3 linked regions of the Homo sapiens genome follow. The protein of the gene in region 1 interacts with the protein of each later gene in a biochemical or structural test. Each region holds a gene or a part of one and is shown in the gene's direction. Other genes may lie near its edges.

What was found.
Region 2: of the proteins of WNK1 (region 1) and KLHL3, one has a biochemical effect on the other in vitro, tested with the Homo sapiens proteins (2 studies listed by BioGRID).
Region 3: of the proteins of WNK1 (region 1) and OXSR1, one has a biochemical effect on the other in vitro, tested with the Homo sapiens proteins (2 studies listed by BioGRID and IntAct, with this or other methods).

Annotation. Positions count from the first base shown.
Region 1 is NC_000012.12:755,554-762,581, forward strand, and holds part of WNK1 (serine/threonine-protein kinase WNK1), read left to right. Parts: intron 1-7,028. UniProt on the Homo sapiens protein: Serine/threonine-protein kinase component of the WNK1-SPAK/OSR1 kinase cascade, which acts as a key regulator of blood pressure and regulatory volume increase by promoting ion influx.
Region 2 is NC_000005.10:137,733,090-137,741,087, reverse strand, and holds the start of KLHL3 (kelch-like protein 3), read left to right. Parts: upstream 1-4,998; 5' UTR 4,999-5,441; coding exon 5,442-5,455; intron 5,456-7,998. UniProt on the Homo sapiens protein: Substrate-specific adapter of a BCR (BTB-CUL3-RBX1) E3 ubiquitin ligase complex that acts as a regulator of ion transport in the distal nephron.
Region 3 is NC_000003.12:38,245,509-38,252,536, forward strand, and holds part of OXSR1 (serine/threonine-protein kinase OSR1), read left to right. Parts: intron 1-566; coding exon 567-713; intron 714-2,159; coding exon 2,160-2,224; intron 2,225-4,457; coding exon 4,458-4,510; intron 4,511-5,894; coding exon 5,895-5,963; intron 5,964-6,819; coding exon 6,820-6,884; intron 6,885-7,028. UniProt on the Homo sapiens protein: Effector serine/threonine-protein kinase component of the WNK-SPAK/OSR1 kinase cascade, which is involved in various processes, such as ion transport, response to hypertonic stress and blood pressure.

The DNA of each region.
Region 1 (7,028 bases):
TCTAAGGTAGTGTGAAATTAAAACTACTCATTAATTTTATAGTATTTTAGAATTGAAAAGGTGACAGATCTTTAAAAAAAAAAAACCTCGTCAAACGAAAACTGTTCATTTTGGTCAGTCATATTCAAAAAACTTAGTCTGGGCCAGGCACGGTGGCTCACGCCTGTAATCCCAGCACTTTGGGAGGCCAAGGCGGGTGGATCACGGGGTTAGGAGTTCGAGACCAGCCTGACCAACATGGGGAAACCCCGACTCTACTAAAAATACAAAAATTAGCCGGGTATGGTGGCGCGCGCCTGTAATTCCAACTACTCGGGAGGCTGAGGCAGGAGAATATCTTGAACCCAGCAGGTGGAGGTTGCAGTGAGCGGAGATCGCACCATCGCACTGCAGCGTGGTGACAGAGCGAGACTCCGTCTCAAAAACAAACAAAAACAACAACAACAAAAAAACTTATGTCCGATTCCTTTTGGTTTACAGGCAGAAATTTACAGGTAGACACATTTCTTTCTTGTACTATCGATGCTTATTGATACTGATGCTGGAATTTTATTCTTCCATTATAGTTTTATATTTGAATAGGTGCTTTTTAACAATTTTGTTTTCCTTAACCGGTTACCTTACTTTTTTAAGACTGGACCCAATTACTTGTTGAGCACTTTATGAATTAATTTTGTTAGTTTTAATTATTTCACTTCTGAGACTTCTTAGCATGTGATGTGTGTTTTCCTTTTATCACCTGGAATTTTCTGATACTTTATTATCTTGGAACTGATAATACAGTGAAAAAAACTTAATTTGTCTAATGTCACGATAAAAACTTTGTCCAAGCTTCTCAGGTTTTCTTAGAACTCGTAACTTTTTGGATTTTTAATTCTCTATCTAGGCATGGGCATTACCAAACTAAAGAAAATCTTACATCGCATATTATTTTTGAGTCATTTCAGGATTTGGCTGCAGAACTAGATGAATCCTAGCTTATTAAGTGGTACCTGGTTTAGAAACTTCCATGTTATTTGTCTGTGCTTCTGTAATTTTTTGTTTTGATTTTGAAAAGATTATCTTACCTGAAAAATCCTTTATAGCAGTAGTTAGGCAGTATTTTTGGTTTTTTGACCAGGACACTTGCACTACATGCCTAATAAAATATTCAGTGGGTCAGTGTTTGAACTTTTATCTTTGGAGCCAAATTAAAGGACAAGCCAAGGGATTACTAAAGCACTGGAAAGATAGAAACTTTTTCGCTAAATCTATCCTTTTAATATACATATATTTCTGAAGCAAGACAGGAGAATATTGAGTTAAGTTGTTGAGTTAAAAATCTTAGTGTATTGAAACTGGGAGAAATCTTAGGTTATTCTGCCCAGCTATTTATTTGACAAATAAGGAACCTGAAATCATAGAGCAGGTAAATAACTTGATTAGGTAGATGAAGAACAAAAGCTAGTTAGGATCTAATAATTTGGGAGATGACAAAGCATTTGTAGTCCAGTAGATGGCTAATAAGTCATTTCAAATGAAGCAATATTGTGTTGGTGTGGAAGTGGCTGTTGGATTTCTGGAGAAACCCGGTCCTTATACCCATGGCAAATTTCAGGCTTCTGTTTTGGGTGTTGATTTTTATCACTTCAAATTGAGATATAAATAGGCTTTTGTGGATGGGTCAATATGGTATACAAATCAAGCTATTTTCTGTCATGCTAATTTTTTTAGAGTCATGCTATGCATTGCTCTTTAGTAAAACAAGCATCAATTCTTTTTTTTTTTTTTTTTTTTTTTTAAAAAAAAAAAGAGACGGAGTCTTGCTCTATCTCCAGGCTAGAGTGCAGTGGCGCAATCTGAGCTCACTGCAACCTCCGCCTCCTGGGTTCAAGCGATTCTCCTGCCTCAGCCTCCCAAGTAGCTGGGAGTACAGGCGCACCCCACCACACCCAGCTAATTACAAGCATCAATTCTTAGTAAATAATGCCTAGGTAATATTTTGATACCACAGGACCTTCAGTAATTACCGAGATGTTTAAGATGCAGATTTCTTTAACTGGTTTTATTAGACAAGTAGTGCACCTTAATTTTAATATTTGGTTGTCTTGGTCAGAAAATATTACTGTTGGGCTCTATCTGCAGAGTTTACATTGCTTTTCTAGAAAGGGATCTGGTTTTTCAAAAAAGATAGCATAATTTCCTTTAAGAAAACATTGATGGAGCCGGGTGCGGTGGCTCACGCCTGTAATCCCAGCACTTTGGGAGGCCGAGGCGGGTGGATCACGCGGTCAGGAGTTCGAGAACAGCCTGGCCAACATGGCGAAACCCCATCTCTACTAAAAATACAAAAATTAGCTGGGCGTGGTCCGCACGCCTGTAATCCCAGCTACTCGAGAGGCTGAGGCAGGAGAATTGTTTGAACCCGGGAGGCAGAGGTTGCAGTGAGTCGAGATCGCACCACTGCACTCCAGCCTGGGTGACAGGGTGAGACTCTGTCTCTAAAAAAAAAAAAAAAAAAAGAAAGAAAGAAAAAGAAAACATTGATGCACAGATTTAAGAATGATTTATTTTAAGCACCTTCCCAAGTTGCCTCTGAAGAGTTCACATGATGCGTTATATGTTGATGAGATTGTTTCCACATCTACCTGAAAAGAGAGGTTAAATCATATTTTTGTTGAAGCTCCAATATACTTAACTGCTTATTTTTCTCTGTCTTTTATTAAGACTGTGTGTCATGAGTACATGACATTAATATTTTGTGAATAGTATAGCAGTGTTACAGAAATGGGATGTGGTTCTGTGATTAAGAAACCATCATTTATTTCTTTGCTATAGTTCTTTTTTTTTTTTTTTTTTTTTTTTTGAGACGGAGTCTCGCTCTGTCGCCCAGGCCGGACTGCGGACTGCAGTGGCGCAATCTCGGCTCACTGCAAGCTCCACTTCCTGGGTTCACGCCATTCTCCTGCCTCAGCCTCCCGAGTAGCTGGGACTACAGGCGCCCGCCACCGTGCCCGGCTAATTTTTTGTATTTTTAGTAGAGACGGGGTTTCACCTTGTTAGCCAGGATGGTCTGCTATAGTTCTTAAAATATCTAATTGAACTGAATCTCTCTATTTGAATGTTGGTGATTTTTTCCCTCTTATCTTTTAAATTTGTGCCACATTCCTTATTTTTTAGGATGAGAATCAGCGTAACTTTCCGTCTCAGGGAATAGTTTTTGGAGTTTGTTCTTAAATCCTCAAAGTCACCGATTAGGAGTATTGGCAAATTTTTTTCTCTTACCTTTTTTCTGACCCGTAGTAACACAGTCTGAGAAGTAATCTAAAAACCTGGAAAGAGGTTGTTTTTGTGTAAAACAAACCAGGAATCTATTGTTGCTTTGTGACAATTCATTTCTTGACATTCAAATTCTGATGCAAGAGCCTAGTCATTTAAAATTTATCTTATTCCACCAGCAGCTTATCAAAGAATTTCAAAAAATAAAAAATATATGTATATAAATATAAATAAAATTCATCTTAGTTCATCCCTATGGAAACATTCAACTAAAACTGGGCTCTCATTTTCAGAAATCATCCTAAACCTGTTATTTGGGTTTTCTGGTAGTTTTTACATTTTTTTAGATAAAGCTGTAAAAGCAGCAAGAGTAGCTGTACTCAATTATCATTTCTGAAAATATTTAGCATACTATGAAATAATTCATAATTACCGTTAGTACACCTTTGCTATACCAGTTCTTTAAATTATATTGATAATTTAAATTATATATTTAGTAACTTGCATTTTGTTTGAGTTTTTTGTTTTTTTGTTTTTGAGACAGAGTCTCACTCTGTCGCCCAGGCTGGAGTACAGTGGCGCGATCTCGGCTCACTGCAACCTCCACCTCCCGGGTTCCAGCAATGCTCCTGCCTCAGCCCCCTGAGTAGCTGGGATTACAGGCGAGCGCCACCACGCCCGGCTAATTTTTGTATTTTTAGTAGAGATGGGGTTTCACCATGTTGGCCAGGCTGGTCTTGAACACCTGACCTCGTGATCTGCCCGCCTTGGCCTCCCAAAGTCCTGGGATTACAGGCTTGAGCCACCATGCTCAGCCGTTTTGTTTTGTTTTAAAACCTGGTCTGCAGGAATAGGTGAGACTTAGCATGACCTCAGTTTATGTTTGAAGAGGCCATTTTTCTGCCTTGTAACATAGTAGTTAAGAACTAGATTGCCTGGGCTCAAATCAAGGCTCAGCTACATAATTGTGTCACCTTGAGCAAGTTTTGTGCTACAGTTTCCTGTCTGTAAAATGGGTGTAAAAAAGAGTACCCATTTTATAGAGTTGTGCTGATTAAATGAATGAACATATATAAAACATGTAGGATAGGGCCTGCCACATAAATATTAACTGTGATGATGCAGCATCTTTTTTAGGTTGTCCTTTTGAGGGAATCTGTGAAGATTTTGTTTGTTTATATTTATGCTTGAAAAATCATATAGCAAAACTTAACTACTGTTCTTGGAGGAGGAGGAAAGCAGGTATTGATCTTTATGTTACTGGTGCTTTTAAATTCCTTAGCTCTACCTGGCCTTTGCCTAACATTTTAATTTTGTGACCCATCACCCAAATGCCAATCTTTCTGAACTGCTTATTTTCAGAATCTGCTAAGATCCTTGTCTCATCTTTGCATGTATCTAGAAAGCATATTTTCTTTTGGTGGATCTCATATATAATTCTTATAGTATTTATTTATCATATTGAAATTGTTTATATATTTTGTCTAATCCATTAGTCTTTGGAAAGTTCACTATGGTGTAATAGAATACTATACAATGAAAAGGAGCACCAAGGCAGAACCCTTGAGTTCTAGATTACCCAATTTTCTGAGCTTTGAGTAAGGAACTTAATCTATAATGCTCATTTATTAGCAATATGTCTTACTGATTTAGGATTGTTGAAGATCCACTGAAATACTATGTGAATGTACTTTGAAAAATGTTAAGTGTTATATAAAATATAACAGAATACTTAAATATTCATTTAGAAGGCTATAAATTGTCACCTATTACAAATGGAATATATTAAACTTAGTTGGATTTTAGGAGCTTTTTGCTTTGTCAACTTAATTTCTCAAATCTTAACAGGGGAGCTTTTCAGTTTGAAGAAACATTGTCAGAAGCTCTTAATATTTTATTTGGAAGATGATTATGCCTTTGACAGGTAGCAGGCTTAATTTTATATGTAGTTTTTTTTTTATTGTTGTTGTTTTTGATGGGGTCTTGCTCTGTCGCCCAGGCTGGAGTGCAGTGGCGTGATCTTGGGATCTTGGCTCACTGAAACCTCCACCTCCTGTGTTCAAGCGATTCTCCTGCCTCAGCCTCCAGAGTAGCTGGGATTACAGGCACCCACAACCACACCCGGCTAATTTTTTTTTTTTTTTTGTATTTTTAATAGAGACAGAGTTTCACCGTGTTGGACAGGCTGGTCTCAAACTCCTGACCTCAGGTGATCCACCTGCCTTGGCCTCTTAAAGTGCTGGGATTACAGGCATGAGCCGCCGTTCCTGGTCTATATGTAGTTTTTAAAAGATTGGTTATTTGTGATTTTTACATAAGAGGAAAAGCATCAGTAAGCTGTGGTTTTGTGGCCAACTTAATTGATCATATAATATCTCCACCTTCACTTACATTAATTTAGATTTTTCAGGTGGGGTTTCATAAATAATTTACTTTTTAGTGTTGTGACTTGAATCTTGGCTTTGCCAAATTACCATATTAAATACATTATGCTAAATGAATATGTTGGAATGATTTTTTAGAAGAGTCCTCAGATAAGCTGTTAGTCATAACAAGCAAATAATTTTCTCAGGAATGTAAGAATTCTTAAGAATTTTAACAGTTTGAATTTAAGAGTGTTTGGAAATTTGCTTGTTGTAATCATCATACTCAGGTTAGTTAAGAAAAACCACAGTCATTCCTGCAGATACCTTTTGTGCAGCTGAGGTTCAGCTTCTCAGAGACAATATTATTTTTGTCAGTAGATACGTGGTAGATGGTCTAGTTAACCAAACACACACTAATGTATAAACCAAACAGTGAGAGATGAAATTAATTAGTGAATCAAATGATTAATGTGCACATTCTCTGTTACTAGATAGAGATTAACAGATTTCTTGGGATAAGATCATTTTCATGGCTAAGAGTTTTGAGCTACATAACCTGATATATCTATCTTTATGTGGATCATCTCCTTCCATGGACTGGTAGATTATTGTGGATTAAGGTAAATCGGGAAATGCAACAGATTTATCTCTTTAACATGCTAAAGAGTTACTAGATATCATTGTCATATTAAAATGTTCTTTGAACTCTCCATATTGCCCCTCTCACACACAGTCATCCGTCAGTATACACAGGAGATTGGTTCCAGACAGCCCCCACCCCAGGGTACCAAAATTCACAAATGCACAAGTCTCTTAAATAAAATGGTGTATTTTCATATAACCTACAGTAGTACATCCTCCTGTATAGTTTATTTTTTAATTTAATTTTTTTTTTTTTTTGAGGCTGAGTCTTGCTCTGTTGCCCAGGCTGGAGTACAGTGGCACAATCTCAGCTCACTGCTACCTCTGCCTCCTGGGTTCAAGCGATTGTCATGCCTCAGCCTCCCGAGTAGCTGGGATTACAGGCACATGCTACCATGCCCAACTAATTTTTGTATTTTTAGTAGAGATGGGGTTTCATCACGTTGGCCAGGCTGGTCTCGAACTCCTGACCTCAAGTGATCCATCTGCCTCTGCCTCCCAAAACGCTGGGATTACAGGTGTGGCTCCTCACGTATAGTTTAAGTCATCACTAAATTACTTATAATACCTAATACAATGTAAGTGCTATGTAAATAGTTTTTATACTGTAGTGTTTTAAAATTCATGTTGTTTTTTATTATTGTGTTTTGTTATTGTTTTTTCCCCCAATATTTTCATCTGCAGTTAGTTGAATCCATGGATGCAGAACATGTGGATATGGAACCTGAGGATGTGGAGGGCGGACTGTTCTTATGTGTAGAA
Region 2 (7,998 bases), on another chromosome or scaffold:
TGATTCTAAACAAAGTTGGTGTAGATGGCTGAATACATTGCTTTGGGGTAGAGATCTGGGGCCACTAGGGACTTTTGATAAGCTGTAGAAGAAGGCTGGGGTGTGGGAAGGACTGGGCTAAGACAGTGGTCCCTAGGTCACAGACTGGTACTGGTCCATGGCCTGTTAAGAATTGGGATGCACAGCAGGAGGTGAGCAGCCGGCAAGCGAGCATGACCACCTGACCTCTGTCTCCTGTCAGCTCAGCAGTGGCATTAGATTCTCCTAGGAGCATGAACCCTATTGTGAACTGTGTGTGCAAGGGATCTAGGTTGTGCGCTCCTTGAGAAGCTATCTAATGCCTGATGATCTGAGGTGGAACAGTTTCATCCTGAAACCATCATCCCCCCTGACCCCCCACCCCCATCCTTGGAAAAGTTGCCTTCCATGAAACTGGTCCCTGGTGCCAAAAAGGTTGGGGCCTGCTGGACTAAGACACTATTATTGCTGAGCAATCTGAGGATGGGACCTTTTTCTCCAGACAGATACCACATTGATTATTTTGACTCTCCTCTACTGCAGGACTCCAATAGCAACTGTCCTTAATCTGAAGTCCAGTCAGGAAAATTAGCATAGAGCAAACAGGTTCAGACTGTGGTCCAGAGAACATTTGGATAATAAGGTAGAAAATGTAAAATGTGTTTCTGAAACTGGAAAATATTGGGGGTAGGAACTTTGTGCCAGGAGTCTGGAGACTTTGCTTCTTGACTCAGCTCTGCCCCTGGTTTTGCTAGATAACCTTTCTTCCTTTTTTTTTTTTTTCCTAAATTTCATCTTTAATTTTAGATCGAGGGGTACATGTACAGGTTTGTTACATGGGTATCTTGCATGATGCTGAGGTTTGGGGTATGAATGATCCTGTCACCTAGGTAATGAGCATGGTACCCAATAGGTAGCTTTTCAACTACCTTTTTAGGCTTGCTCCTTGTATTAGGTGGTTATTGTGTTGTTATAAAGAAATACCTGAGGCTTGGTAATTTATAAAGAAAAGAGGTTTAATTGCCTCATGGCTCTGCAGGCTGTACAGGAAGCGTGCTGGCATCTGCTTCCGGGGAGGCCTCAGGAAGCTTACAATTGTGGTGGAAGGCAAAGGGGGAGCTGGTATATCACGTGATGAGAGCAGAGGCAAGAGAGTGAGGAGGAAGGTGCCACACACTTTTAAACAACCAGATCTCGAGTGAACTCAGAGTGAAAACTCTTTATTATGGGGACAGTGTGAAACTATTATGAGTGATCTGCCCCTATGACCCAAGCACCTCCCACTAGGCCCTATCTCCAACTCTAACACTGAGGATTACATTCCAGCATGAGATTTGGAGGCTACCAACATCCAAATCATATAACCCCTTTTCCCTCCCTCCATCCTCTAGTAGTCCCCAGTATCTATTGTTCCCATCTTCATGTCCATATGTACCCAATGTTTAGCTCCCACTTATAACTGAGAATGTGTGACATTTGGTTTTCTATTTCTGCACTAATTCACATAGGATAATGGCCTCTCGCTGCTTTCATGTTGCCACAGAGGACATGATTTTATTCTTTTTTTATGACTGTGTAGTATTCCTTGGTATATATATACCACACATTCTTTATTCAGTCCACCATTGATGGGCACCTAACTTGATTTTTTGTCTTTGCTATTTTGAATAGTGCTGCGATGAACATACAAGTGCATGTGCCTTTTTGGCAGAATGGTTTATTTTCTTTTGAGCATATACCTAGTAATGGGATTGCTGGGTCGAATGGTGGTTCTATTTTTAGTTCTTTGAGAAATCTCCAGACTGCCTTCCATAGTAGCTGAACTAATTTACATTCACCAGCAGTGTATAAGCATTCCCTTTCCTCCACAGCCTTGACAACATCTGTTATTTTTAGACTTTTTAATAATGGTCATTTTGACTGGTGTGAGATGGTATCTCATTGTGGTTTTGATTTGCATTTCTCTGGTGAGTAGTGACGATGAGCATTTTTTCATGTTTGTTGGCTGTTTGTATGTCTTCTTTTGAGAAACGTCTGTTCATGTCCATTGCCCACTTTTAAAAATGGGTTTACATGTTTTTTGCTTGTTGAATTAAATTCCTTATAGATTCTGCATATTAGACCTTTGTCAGATGCAGTTTATGAATATTTTCTCCTATTCCGTACATTGTCTGTTTACTCTGTTGATAGTTTCTTTTGCTATACGAAGCTCTTTAGTTTAATTAGGTCTTACTTGTCAATTTTTGCTTTTGCTGCATTGCTAGAAGGGTATTTCCTAGGTTTTTTTCCTTTTTTAAATAGTTTTAGGTCTTACATTTAATTGTTTACTCCATCTTGGGTTTATTTTATTTTATTTTTTGAGACAGAGTCTTGCTCTGTCACCCAGGCTGGAGTGCAGTGGTGCAGTCTTGGCTCACTATAACCTCTGCCTCCCAGGTTCAAGTGATCCTCCTGCCTCGGGCTCCCAAGTAGCTGAGACTACAGGCACATGCCACCACACCTGGCTAATTGTAGTATTTTTAGTAAAGATGGGGTTTTACCAGGTTGGCCAGGCTGGTCTCAAACTCTTGACCTCAGGTGATCTGCCCGCCTTGGCCTCCCAAAGTGTTGGGATTACAGGTATGAGCCACTGTGCCTGAGTTAATTTTTATATATGGTGATAGGGTCCAGTTTCTTCTGCATATGGATAGCCAGTTATCCCAGCATCATTTATTGAAGTCCTTTCCCCATTGCTTATTTTTGTTGACTTTGTCGAAAATCAGTTGGTTGTAGGTGAACAGCTTTATTTCTGGGTTCTCTTTTCTGTTCCATTGGTCTATGTGTCTGTTTTTGTACCAATACCATACTGTTTTGGTTACTGTAGCCTTGTAGTATAGTTTGAAGTCAGTTAATGTGGTGCCTCCAGTTTTGTTCTTTTTGCTTAAGATGACCTTTCTTTTCTAAATGGCCTCTTCTGAGTGTTCTCTATTCTGTCTACCTCCTGTGAATCATGAGTGGTGAATAAAGTATGAAGGTGTAGTCGTATGGTTTTGCAGGGAAATTTAGCAGGGTTTTATACTGGCTCTTAATAGTTATATTTTGAAACTTGAATACATACAACCCTTACATATTTCCTTTTCTGATCTTTTTTCTTTGTCTGGTTTGTTAGATGTGGCATTTCCACACCTTCCTGTATGGCGAATATGTAAACGTGGGTATGTGCAAAGGAGGAGTCATCTCTTTCTTATGTCCCTTTTATGAATCACCCAGTTGTGTTCCTGGTGGATGTCTGAACTCTGGCACGGATTCCGAGATTCAGTTTCCTTATTTGTGATGTTCAGCTTTTTGTGGTCCCTGTGATTGGCCTCAAGAGGAAATATCTGGAGCAGGGCCACAAGGCTGATTAGAGGAGGAAGGGACATAGAGGGAACAAGATATGAGGGGTATTGTTGTGCAAGGAAGAAGTGAAGATACAGCCCTGTGGGGTGTAAATGAAATTATCCAGGCCTCTTCTCACTTGAGAAAGAGTGAGTGTGAGTAATGGCCTTGTCTAAGAGAACACTGAGGTGCCAGGGGAGGTAATCTTTGAGAATAACCCTGTAGCCAGTTTGAGTTCAGGAGGCTATATAAAGTTTTAGTTACTTTTACTTTCTGTCACCTCAGTGTTCCTCTCTTCCTTCTGTGGTTTTAGGGCTTTGTAGTAGTGAAGAAATTTAACAGGTTAAAATGATAAGGATGATAGATTTACTGAGCGTCTCTTCGTACTTTCACCTACATCATGTTATCCTCCTTGAAGCCCCCTACAACACATTGGAGCCTAGTATTTCTTCTTAAACAATCACACGGATTACTCTGAGAAGAAAAACGGACCATTTAAAACATTTTTAGAATCCTGTGATCTTGGAGCTGAAAGGGACTCTAAAGATTGTCTGGTCTGACCCTATATTGTGAATGAGTAGCTGAGCATGAGGTCCAGAGTGTGGAGAACACTACTCAGGAAAGTCACTCACCCAGTGAGTGCTGGTGTGGATTCGGAAAAGCCCAGGGGTGCCATGAGGTGTCCCAGAAGAGAGATGCTCATAGCTGATTTTTTTCTGAGGCATTAGGATAGCTTCTGCACCACTTTTTGCAGCTAATTGTCCCAGTTACCTCTAAGCCTCTGTGGCTAGGATATACAGACTGGCCTCATGCCTTCCACAAGATTATGTTTTAGTTTGGGAAAGAAGATTTATAAATAATGAATTAGCCAAGACTGTATATTAGGTGTGAGATGACGATACAGGAAAGTATAGTTTGTGTATTTTGGTGGTGATTGACTGTCATTGGTGTGATTAGGGAAGGTTTTATGAAGACATGGGATTTGACTGGACTCCCAGAAAGACTAAAGGACTGGGATTGGAGAAGGCATTTCAGGCAGGGAGAGTTAAATTAGTCTAAATTGAAGCTCAGCAGCTGGAGATTACAGGATGTGAAAGATCTTTGGCTGGATATGGGGGTTCAGTGGGAGACTTACTAGTTGGAGCCACTGCTTAAGTTAAATTCCAATATGACAGATTTTAGGAAGATATTTTAGGATTGTGCTAAGATATTTTAGTATTCATTGTGATAGCTTTACTGCAGTAGTCTTTGGCCTCTTGCAGTAAAATAGGGTTTGTTTCAGTTTCACCTATTTGTACTACCTCTCTTTTTCGACTAGTTTTCCAATTTCTCTCTGTATTCTCTTAATTTCTCTCTGTGTTTTTCTCACTTCTGTCAGGTGCTTTTCCCTTAACTTCTCCCCATCTATCAGACACTCAGAGCTACTACAGAATTTGGGAGGAGGATTTGGAACATAAACTGTGACCTACAAGTGAATTTCCCCAGGTGGATGATAAACTCCACTGCAGGCCACAGAGGGGCCTCCTCATTCCAGCAATCTGGCCAGGCTGACAGACTCATAGCCTATGGGAGCAGGGGAGGGTGTAGGGGCCAGTATTTCTCGGGCTAGTGACGAACTGCCTGATTCTTTGCAGCCTAGACAGAGGAGGCAGGAGCCCCAGGGGCGGGCTAATCGCCTGGGCTGGGGATGCCTGGGCAGATGCAGAGGAAGCTGGAAAGGTGGCAGTGCACCTGGGTCGCTGGAGCTGCCGCCGTTCCTAGGAGACCAAGGAGCAGCAAGCCTGCGGGGGAGGGGGAGCAAGTGGGTTGCTGCTTTTAGCAGCTGAAAGGGCTGCAGGGAGCTCTGGGTAAGACATTTTCTGTTGCTGCTGCTTTTGCGGTAGAAGCTGCTGCGAGTAAGTCAGAGGAAGGAGGATTGAGAAGGGAGGAGGCTTCACTTGCAGCCATGCTGAATCACTGTTGCTGATCAGATTTCCCACTGGTCTGCTGGGAGAATCAAGAACAGAACTAGGATCCCCGAGTGCATACACAGTTCAGCAGCTACCACCCTGGCTGGGCCTCACACAATGGAGGGTGAAAGGTATGTATGTATAAGTGTGTGCTGTGTTGTGTGTGTATGTAAGTGTATGTGTGCTTGCGGTGCAGCCACCAGCTTTTGTGTTTGCATTGGCTAGGCAGAGTTGGAAGACCTGGCCACTGATGGATCTTAAAGGGCGCCAGAACAAGAGCAGGAAAGCCGCTTTCCAAATCACCCGTTCCAGGGCTTGAATCTCCAGAGATCTGGCTTCCGCAAAGGCAGGTCTGGGTTTGCTAGGCAGCGGAGCACCCTGAAAGAAGGGACTTCCTGGCTGGTGTTCGGGAATAGTTTCAGCACAGGCTGAATCAGATTGCCTTTCTCAGGCTGTTTCAAGGAGGCGTTTCCCTTTCCTGGCTCCTTTCCCGGGGTGTTTTTTCTTTGGTGGGGGGTTTTTGATGTCATAGTGGGGCTGACCTGACATAGTGTACTTGCATTTTCACGCAGGAGTGCTTGAATCTTCAGCAAGCATGCCATGCTGATGGCTGTGTGTGTGCGCGCGTGCACGCCGTGTATGCCTGTATACACACACATTCAGGGATGAAGGAGAGAAACCCAGTCAGATGATACTTGCTCTGAACTGAGTTTCATATTTGTATTGAAAAGTTTATGAGTGATACTGGAAGGTCTGTGCTTCCTCCATCAGGGATTTCTTTTGAAATAGGAACCAGCAGAAAAGATTTTAAGTACTTTTGTTGAGCTGGATCTAACTAGCGAGGCAGTTAGATCCTGGCAGGCACACACATCTAAATTTTTAAATTGTTATCTGAAGATCTGAATCTTTCATTGTGAAGGTGCTCAGCGCAGTGCAGAGGTGACATTCCTCTGTCTATGAAGTAAAATATCTCTTGAGTGCCAACCTCTTCATTCTTTGGTCTGCAGTTGGTAGAGTACGAGGCTTGCCATTTTATCTGAGGAGAGAAGACTGCAGGGAGGGGTCCGGCCATGGCAGTGCACCACTGAGGGGAAGCCTGCTGCTCCAGATTGCCAGTTTGATGCAGACAGTAACCATCTGGTTAACAATAATAGGCTCAACTAAGTCAACACTAGAGAGTATCTCAATGAACACTTTCCTTTTCATGAGTTGTTGTGACTTCTGTGTCTCACGGGGCACAGTGATGCCATTAAACATCTCTAGACCCTATTAGAACTAGCATGATGATTGGGTGTCATTCTTTTGTCTGTAGAGGCCCTGGGAACTGTGTTTCTTGATGACTCCCACAGGAAGAGCCTGGGACTGACTGTGCTGCTGGTGCATTCTCTTTCTGGGTGCTCTTTGCAACAGGAGTTTAGTGTTGAACTCTGTGAGGCCTGCTGAGCAGCAGAATATGAAGGCCTATTTCCTAAGTGTGGGGCAGAGGTGAGCAGTGTCTTTGGTCCCCAAAACAGTGTCCCATTGATCTGGTAGGTGGCAGAGAATGGGGTTGATGCGATGAAGGTTTAGAGATTCTGGGCCATGCCTATTTGCTTGACCTGTGGTGTAACTGGGGTTGAGAGGTCAGTGTGAGACTACCAGCAGCGGATCAAACAGTTTTGGGCACTGTGTTCCCAGTTCTGTGTTCAGAAATATAGTGAGTCCTTGCCCCTGTCCTGGGGCCTCTCAGCTGGGATGGCTGATGTCTATGGCTTTAGAACACCAGGTTGCACATGTTCTTGTACTTTTCCTCTGCTGAAGGCAGATGGTAGACAAGAAATCCAAACCGAGCAGCTTCCAATGTTCACCAGGTCACCCAGGTCATACCTTTTGTTCCTGCTCCAAGTCCAGCTTACCATGCCACGCGTTCAAGTCTTCTGAACTCTAACTCCTGTTCCCATTTCCACTGCTCACTCATATACCTACTGAGAATTCTGTTGATCTCTTTCATGATCACCCATCCTATACATTACTCCATCTAGCCTCATATCCTTAGCTCCCAGAGTTTCTTTTGCTGGATGTCTTTCCCTTCCAATTTTGCAAAAGTTATCTATCTATCAAGGTTATTCTAAAATTCTACTTTATCTTGGAAACTCAGCTTTTCTAGTCCTGGCTGATGTTCTTCGGAATTCTAATACCTCTGGTTTGTATCTCATAGTTGGACACTGAATAATAGGCCCACCAGATCTTTCAGTGCTTTTATTTCATATATCTTAGCAGTCCCCAGACTTGGAGACAGGTCCTCAAGGGCAAGGCTGGTGCCTTGTACTTCTAAATACCCCCATTGACTACTGCATGGGTACACAAATAGCAGGTGCTGAATAGTTATTAGCTGATTAGCTAATAACTTTTGTGTGAGGCTCTGATAACTAAAAAGAAAGTTGGTGAAAGAAGAGACTGAAGCCTTTGGCCAATAGCCTCATCTTTGGATATCAGCCTTATTATCTTAGCACGGGTAACTGACTTCAAGGAATGCTTTGAGGTAGGGGGAGAACAGAGGGAAGTAGCCTTGTTTTACAAGTTCCCTGGGAAATTGAGGTCCAGAGAAGCTGAGTGACTCGCCTAGGATCACATGTCCAACCTCCAGAGACTGGAGGGATCCTCAATCTGGTGCTCATTCCACACTTAACCTGCT
Region 3 (7,028 bases), on another chromosome or scaffold:
TCTGTAATTTTGTATTACATACTTAAATCTGTATTTTGGAGGTGCTGTTTTGCTGGGCAAAGGAATGGAATAGATTTTGTTAAAGATAAATATAATGCAAACTGAAGACAGACACAAAAGACTATATATTATATGATTCCATTTATATGAAATATCCAGAAAAGCAAATTTATAGAAATTAGGATCAGTTGTTGCCTATGGCTGGGTGTGGAAGCAGGAACTAACTATAGGCATGAGAGGACTTTTTGGGGGTGATGGAAGTGTTCTAAAACGATTGTGGTGATGGTTGCACAATTCTATATATGGTACAAAAATCGCCAAATTGTACAGTTACAGTGGGTAAATGTAGAGAAATATAAATTATACCTCACAGAGTTGTTAAAAGTTTAAAAGCCTAGAAATATTTGACTTCCGTTTGGAATAGATATATTCGGAGTAGACACAAAACCTGTACACTACCCAAAAACTACTTTGAAAATATCACCCTGAAAGGCTGAACTTGCTGTCAGCAGACCTGCCTCCCTTTCCACACAACTTAAGCAACACTGTGTGTGTTTTTGTTACAGCTCTTTCCAACAACTGATCCTGTGGGTACTTTGCTCCAAGTTCCAGAACAGATCTCTGCTCATCTACCTCAGCCAGCTGGGCAGATTGCTACACAGCCAACTCAAGTCTCTCTCCCACCCACCGCAGAGCCAGCAAAAACAGCTCAGGTAAAGCCGGGGATATGGTTTCATGGTCACTCCTTTGGATAGATGAAAAGAGCAGATATTAACGTGGAATATAACCTAATGTAATCAGGTTAATGTCTTGGTAGATTTTGAAACAAGTTAGAAATTCTGTCTTCACATTTTTAAGCATGTACAGGTAAGAGAATTTTACAAGGATCACATGCAGGTTTTTAAGCAACAGAATAAGTTAATGATGGAAATATTTCAAACATCAAAAATTTTGGGCTAATTTCTTGTCAGCTTTGTATTAGATAATTACATTTAACTTCAGAATGCAGCTCATGAAGTTCAACAGAGACTAGGAGAATCGATGGCTGTACTGTTTTTGTTGTTGTTGTTCACTCAGGCTTATACTTTTTATTAATACTCTTTGTTTTCTGTGGTTTTTCTCTATTACTCTTTTTAAGTTATTTGTCAATTTTGTGAGGGTTGGTTTGTTAAGTCCGGGTATTATAATCTGTAAATCATTTATCCAGGTGCACACAAACTTTATTAAATCATACTTCATTGAGAGCAGCCAAGTGAATGAAGGCCCCGTAGTGGGCTGCTACATGCTGTGTAACTCCTTCTCTCCCTTCAATAAACCTCAGACACTGCATACAACATGTGGCCCTATGGTACATGGTTAAAGTAAGACTTTCAACGTCCATTTATTAAATATTAGAAGTTCCATTTTCTTGTCTAACGTTTTAGATGAAAAGAAATATAAATTAAAGGTCTGATTTTTTTTTTTTTCTTTTGCACCCCAGTAGATCATCTCGTGTTCTGCCTTTGGAGATCACTGCTTTGAGCATTTCCAATTAGTCATGGCACTTACTTCATTTAACTTTGCATCCCTCAAGCTTTCCATTTCTGCTTGGCATATGGGAAAAGATACAGTTGTCTTAGGAAAATTGATGGAAAAATTAGATTCATTTTATAAACAACTTAAATCGAATGCATGTCCTCCCATAAGCAAGCGCTGTACAATTTTCAGAGAGGATTAGTTTAGCCATAAAAAGACTGGAACCTATGTATGGGTTGGATGGATTTCTGAAGGGCAGCTGGTTCAGGGTCTACCTTTTGTACTGCCATATGGTGCACTGGCAGATTTTTTAAAAATGAGAAACCTAGCTTTGTGTTTTTCAGTCTTGTAGAGGGGAACAGGGGTCTCAGAAATATAAAATGTAAATGTGGCTATATGTGAAATTTCATCTGGGCTTGAGAGTTTTCTTTCTCATTGTGTTGGACTTAAACTGACATTCAGCTTTTGTTGCTGCCTTGGAGTGCATGTCCTCCTCCAGCAGGGAATGTCCTGGGGATTAGTATGACCTCAGCTGGAGATGAAGAAAATTGCTGCCAAGTAAATGATTCCTCTGCCAGTGACCATTAGTCACCTCCCCACTTAATGTTTCAGGCAATGACTGTATACCTTTCAATGCTTTTTAGGCTTTGTCTTCAGGATCAGGTTCACAAGAAACCAAGATCCCAATCAGTCTAGTACTAAGATTAAGGTAAGTAGACATTTTTTGTTTTGTTTTCTTTTGTTTTCTGAATATTCTGCATGTGCTGTAATAGTCTGTGCCTGAGAGTAACTGGATAGGATTGTATGTCCTCCAGCATCAAGCTCTGTTTGCTTGGTGGTGTATTATTTTTCCCCAGAAATAATAGCAACAGTGTGAGGACCTGCATGTTAGCAGGTGTTGTGACTAACTGATGCACATGTTCTCTCAGTTGTTTCTGTGCTAATTGGTGATGAGTTTGTGTATTTACAGTGTAGCTAGTTTGGGTTAGGAGGTGTAGCCTGTAATTGAGGAACAGTTTTTAGGGGAGCAGCACTAACTGGCTTATCTGAAGATCAGTCTTATAATTGTGACGAGGTAAACTCTGAGATCAACTAACCCAAGAGGGGAGCACTTTTTGATTGTGGTAGATCAAATAAAGGCCTTGTTTTTAGAAGGTTAAAAGGAAACTTCTAAATGTTTTTGTAGTCTGTTTCTGTTTTGCAGCAAGTACCCTAAATTGGTGGTTCTTGGTGGGAACATATAGAGAGGTCCTGACAGATTGCTCAGCAGGAAGTGCCATAGGTAGCAGTCTGTTCATTTTAACTCCCTGCCCCGCCCCCCCCGCCCCTAGCACTAGTAGCTGGATTCAAATTCCAGAGCTTTCTTGTCAGAATCACTATGGCTGTTGTATTGCTCTAGTTAGGTCTCTTTCTACTCATAAATGCATTTGAAAAAAAATTAGTATTAAAGTATCACTTGAGGCAACTCAGGCCTTTTAAAACTATTACTAACATTTTAAAAAAGAGTTCCACTGAATTACCATTAACTCATTCCCCTTGCACATATAAATTCCTAGTCATCTTTCTGTAAGGTCCTAATTGGAGATAGAGGCAGCAAGAGCTATTTAAGAGAATGTGGTAAGGAGAATCTCATTGCTCCTTGCCACTAGGAGCAATGCATTTATGCCATAAATGTGAAAAACATATTTGGTTACCTTTCCTTTACAGAAGCCTACTTAGTATACCTGGTCTCATCTCAAAAATTCTGAGTTACTAGGATGTCTTGACAACTTCATGCTGTTTTAAATCTACATAAAGAATAACACTTTAAGAAAATTATTGTGAAATGTATTAAGCACAGACTATGTATAGCACTCTTCGGTACTGTGGAAAGGTGGATACTGAGAAAAGAGAAAATTAAATGACTCCCTTAATAATCAAGTCTAGGTTGGAAGTTGATTTGAACTATGTACTTACACAGCTAAAAGCAAATTTCAGGTAGTATATACATGCAGAAGTATAAGTTTGTATGTACCTGTGTAGAAAGAACGCAATGCAAGGGAAAATCATTTGGGGCATGTTATATTTGAGATGGGTAGTTCTATTTTAAGCACAATTTCAGTAACATCCTCAAGTATATTATTCATCAAATAGAAGTAAACCCTCTCCATTATTTATATAAAATAGATTTGAGTCCTAAGTGAGCAGGCATATCTGCCCTTAGATATAGTGTTCTCATTTCTCTGTCTTTAAACAAAACCTCCAGGGATCCTGCTTAATCTCAGTGCATGGTGTGATCATCACTGTAACTGTACCTCACCAGTCAGGTTTGAATTTCTGGAGTCATATAGTAACTCTGCTACCAGTATGGACCCAATTCCTTTCCCTATCCTCTCTGCCTACCTAAATCCTGCATATCTGTTAAGTCCTATATAAAAACTACCTCTAAAATTTTTCCTTATTATCCCCATCTCTCATATATTCTTTGAATTCCTATGGAATTTGAGGGAGTATCATGTATTTCATTTTATGAGTCTGCCAAGACTGATCACCAGAGGTAGGCAATGAATTGTGGGCATGTAGGAGTGGGGATAAGGATGAAAAAGGCATCCTGTATCATTTTAATCACACCTCCCTGTGCTCATACAATTTTCCTCTTAGTTTTATATGTTCTTGGTGTGGGAATAAGGATGGGAGTGGGCATATAAGAATCTACTCAAAGGCATGAAATTTTTATATTGATCAGTAAGGGACATAGATTCAAAGGGTTGTAGGACAATTAGATGGTCATTCCGAATTGGTTTTGCTCTGAGCTCTGCAGTGTGAACATATCTGAATACATCATATGATCTATGGGAACAAAACAGACTTTCTTGAGGCACAGCTTTCTTAATATATGTTGGCAGAATCTCTTTGCATAAATTTAGAAATTCTTATTTTATGCATTCTGCTTTCTTTCATAGGAATTCCAAAAAAGAACTAAATGATATTCGATTTGAATTTACTCCTGGGAGAGGTGAGGCATCAAATGGATTGAAAACAAAATAGCTTCCAATTTGTGATTCAATGAAATGTGTTGTGAAGTTTCTGTCCTTTGTGAAGTTTTGCTTTTAAAGGATAATAAAAATTTTCCTGGTTTTGGCGAGTATATGAGTGAGATAAAAATGCAGTTCGTTGACTACTAAACACATTTAGAAAACCTTGTATAATAATACAAACAGTAATAAATATATGATAGCTCTTTACAGCTTACTATAGGCCAGGCATTGTCTTAAGCGTTATCTTATTAAATTCTCACAGCAGTCTACTAAGGAAAAATTATTATCCCCATAGTATCGATGATGAAATCAAGACTTAAAGGCAAAGTAACTTGTTCAAGGTCACACAGCTGGAAAGAGGTATAGCTGGAATTCAAACCAGATCTGTCAGAATCCAAAGTTCATTCTTTATACATGGTTGTTCTCCATGATGGTAAAGAAACAAGGTCTGCAGTCTCCTCTCTCCTCAGACAGAAGCTGAGGTCTGTCATGTACTGTTTCTGGCTGTTGAACTTCACCTTGAACAAGGTGTGTTTTGTTTCTTGCCTTTATTACTCAGTGTTCTAATTTGGGGAGTAGCCAGCAAGTATCTGTTCTGTGTATCATGCTTATTCTTCTTGCTGTCTCACTATCATGAGCAACTAACCACTAAAGAGAAAAGATGCAGGTGTACAGAGGTGTCACCTGTTTTACTTTTTAAACACCAGGCAACATCACATTTTCAGGAATTAATTCAAATTGCTGGTTGCCTGTGTGAATGTGTGGACACTGTCTCCACCGCAGTCCTCCTGTTCCCTCTGAGGGGCTCATTTTCAAGCCCTTGGCAACCAATACCACTGAGTTGGTTGAAGATGAGGTTAATTGGGGATATTCTGTCCTCATCTTTTTAGTTTCTGGTTATACCCATTGCTCAGATTGTACCACCTGGAATAACTAGATAAGAAGAAAAGCCCACCAGAATAAAAAAGTAAATGATTTTAGCAAAAAACTTGGAGTATGATTCCCAAAGAGAAGAGACAAAAATTTTTTGAGACAAAAATTGTTGCCTTAGTTTTTGAGAATAAATCATTCTGGTTTTTTAGCCCTAGAGATGTTCAGTATTCAACATCATGTCTCAGATATTTGCTACCTGGTTTATACAGATTCTGCCCTCTAGCTAGATCTGTGAGAATTCCACTTGAGATAATCTCAGTGGTAGGAAAAGTCTTTGTATGGAAGGAAGGCCCTGCCTGCCTTCTTGGTTCTGTGGATTTAGCATCCAGCTTGGGCCTAGCATGGCACACTGACACCCACATGAGCTGTGAGAGTTAACAGTGGCAAGCACGCACAAAAAACAGAGCACTGTCTTCTTTGTCCTTGCAGATACAGCAGAGGGTGTCTCTCAGGAACTCATTTCTGCTGGCCTGGTCGACGGAAGGGATTTAGTAATAGGTAACTCCATTGCGTTCTGCTCATGTGCTCCTGTGTCTCTGTCTGTATACTTAGTACATAGAAAAGCAGGTTTTTTATTCCACTGAGTAGGTCTGATGGTTCTTGAAATGGTTCTTGGCTTTCCTGAAATTATAGGTAATGGGACAGTTCCTTACACACACACAAAATTTCACCTCTGAGTTTGCTTTGTGACCTCCAATGATGGTAAGTGAAAGCACACCCAAGGTCTTTAGGAGATTAATAGAAATTATGGCAAAAGTCACAAGTTAAAGTAAGCTTGGCCATATCTGATCTGTTTTGGATACCTAATTTTTGTGGCCCAAGTTGAGCAAAAGTCATTAGAGATTTAGTACTAGAAAAGCAGGAAGGAAGAGAGAAGGCCCAGTGAGGCCACAGGTCCATGTTACTGAAGGAAAAGACCATGTCCTTAGACACAGTTTTCCGTGAAAAACCAGATAATAAATAGTTTAGGCCTTGCGGGCCATGTACAGTGTCTGTCACTTTTAAACCACTCTTAGCTTGCCGGAGAACAAAAACAGACCACAGGCTGGTTTGTTGACTTCTGGCCTTGGGCTTTCTGATCCATAAATCAGGAAATCATACCTCTTTTACCTGCATGTTTTTCCTAGGTTAATACAACATTTTAAAGAAAGTTAATTTGACAGTGGTTCAAGGTGTACTACTCAGAAATGAGTTTAAAAGACACTTTCATTAGGGGAGTGATTATTTGATCTGTCTGCTTCCATTTTGATTGTACGGAGCATATTCTTAACTACCATTTAAGCTTTTAAAATATGGTTGAAAGTGGATTTATGTAACTTCTCATTCATTACCTTCTCTGTTTGTATGATTACAGTGGCAGCTAATTTGCAGAAAATTGTGGAAGAACCTCAGTCAAATCGATCTGTCACTTTCAAACTGGTACTCATCCCTTCTTCCTTGTGAAAACATCTTGCCTTTTATACACTGGCAGCTTCTCCAGACCAGCTTCTATATCCCCTGAGTGATGAGAATATTAAAATGTGGTGGATTGTGTTCATTTAGCCTCCCCAGTGCCCTGGGCTG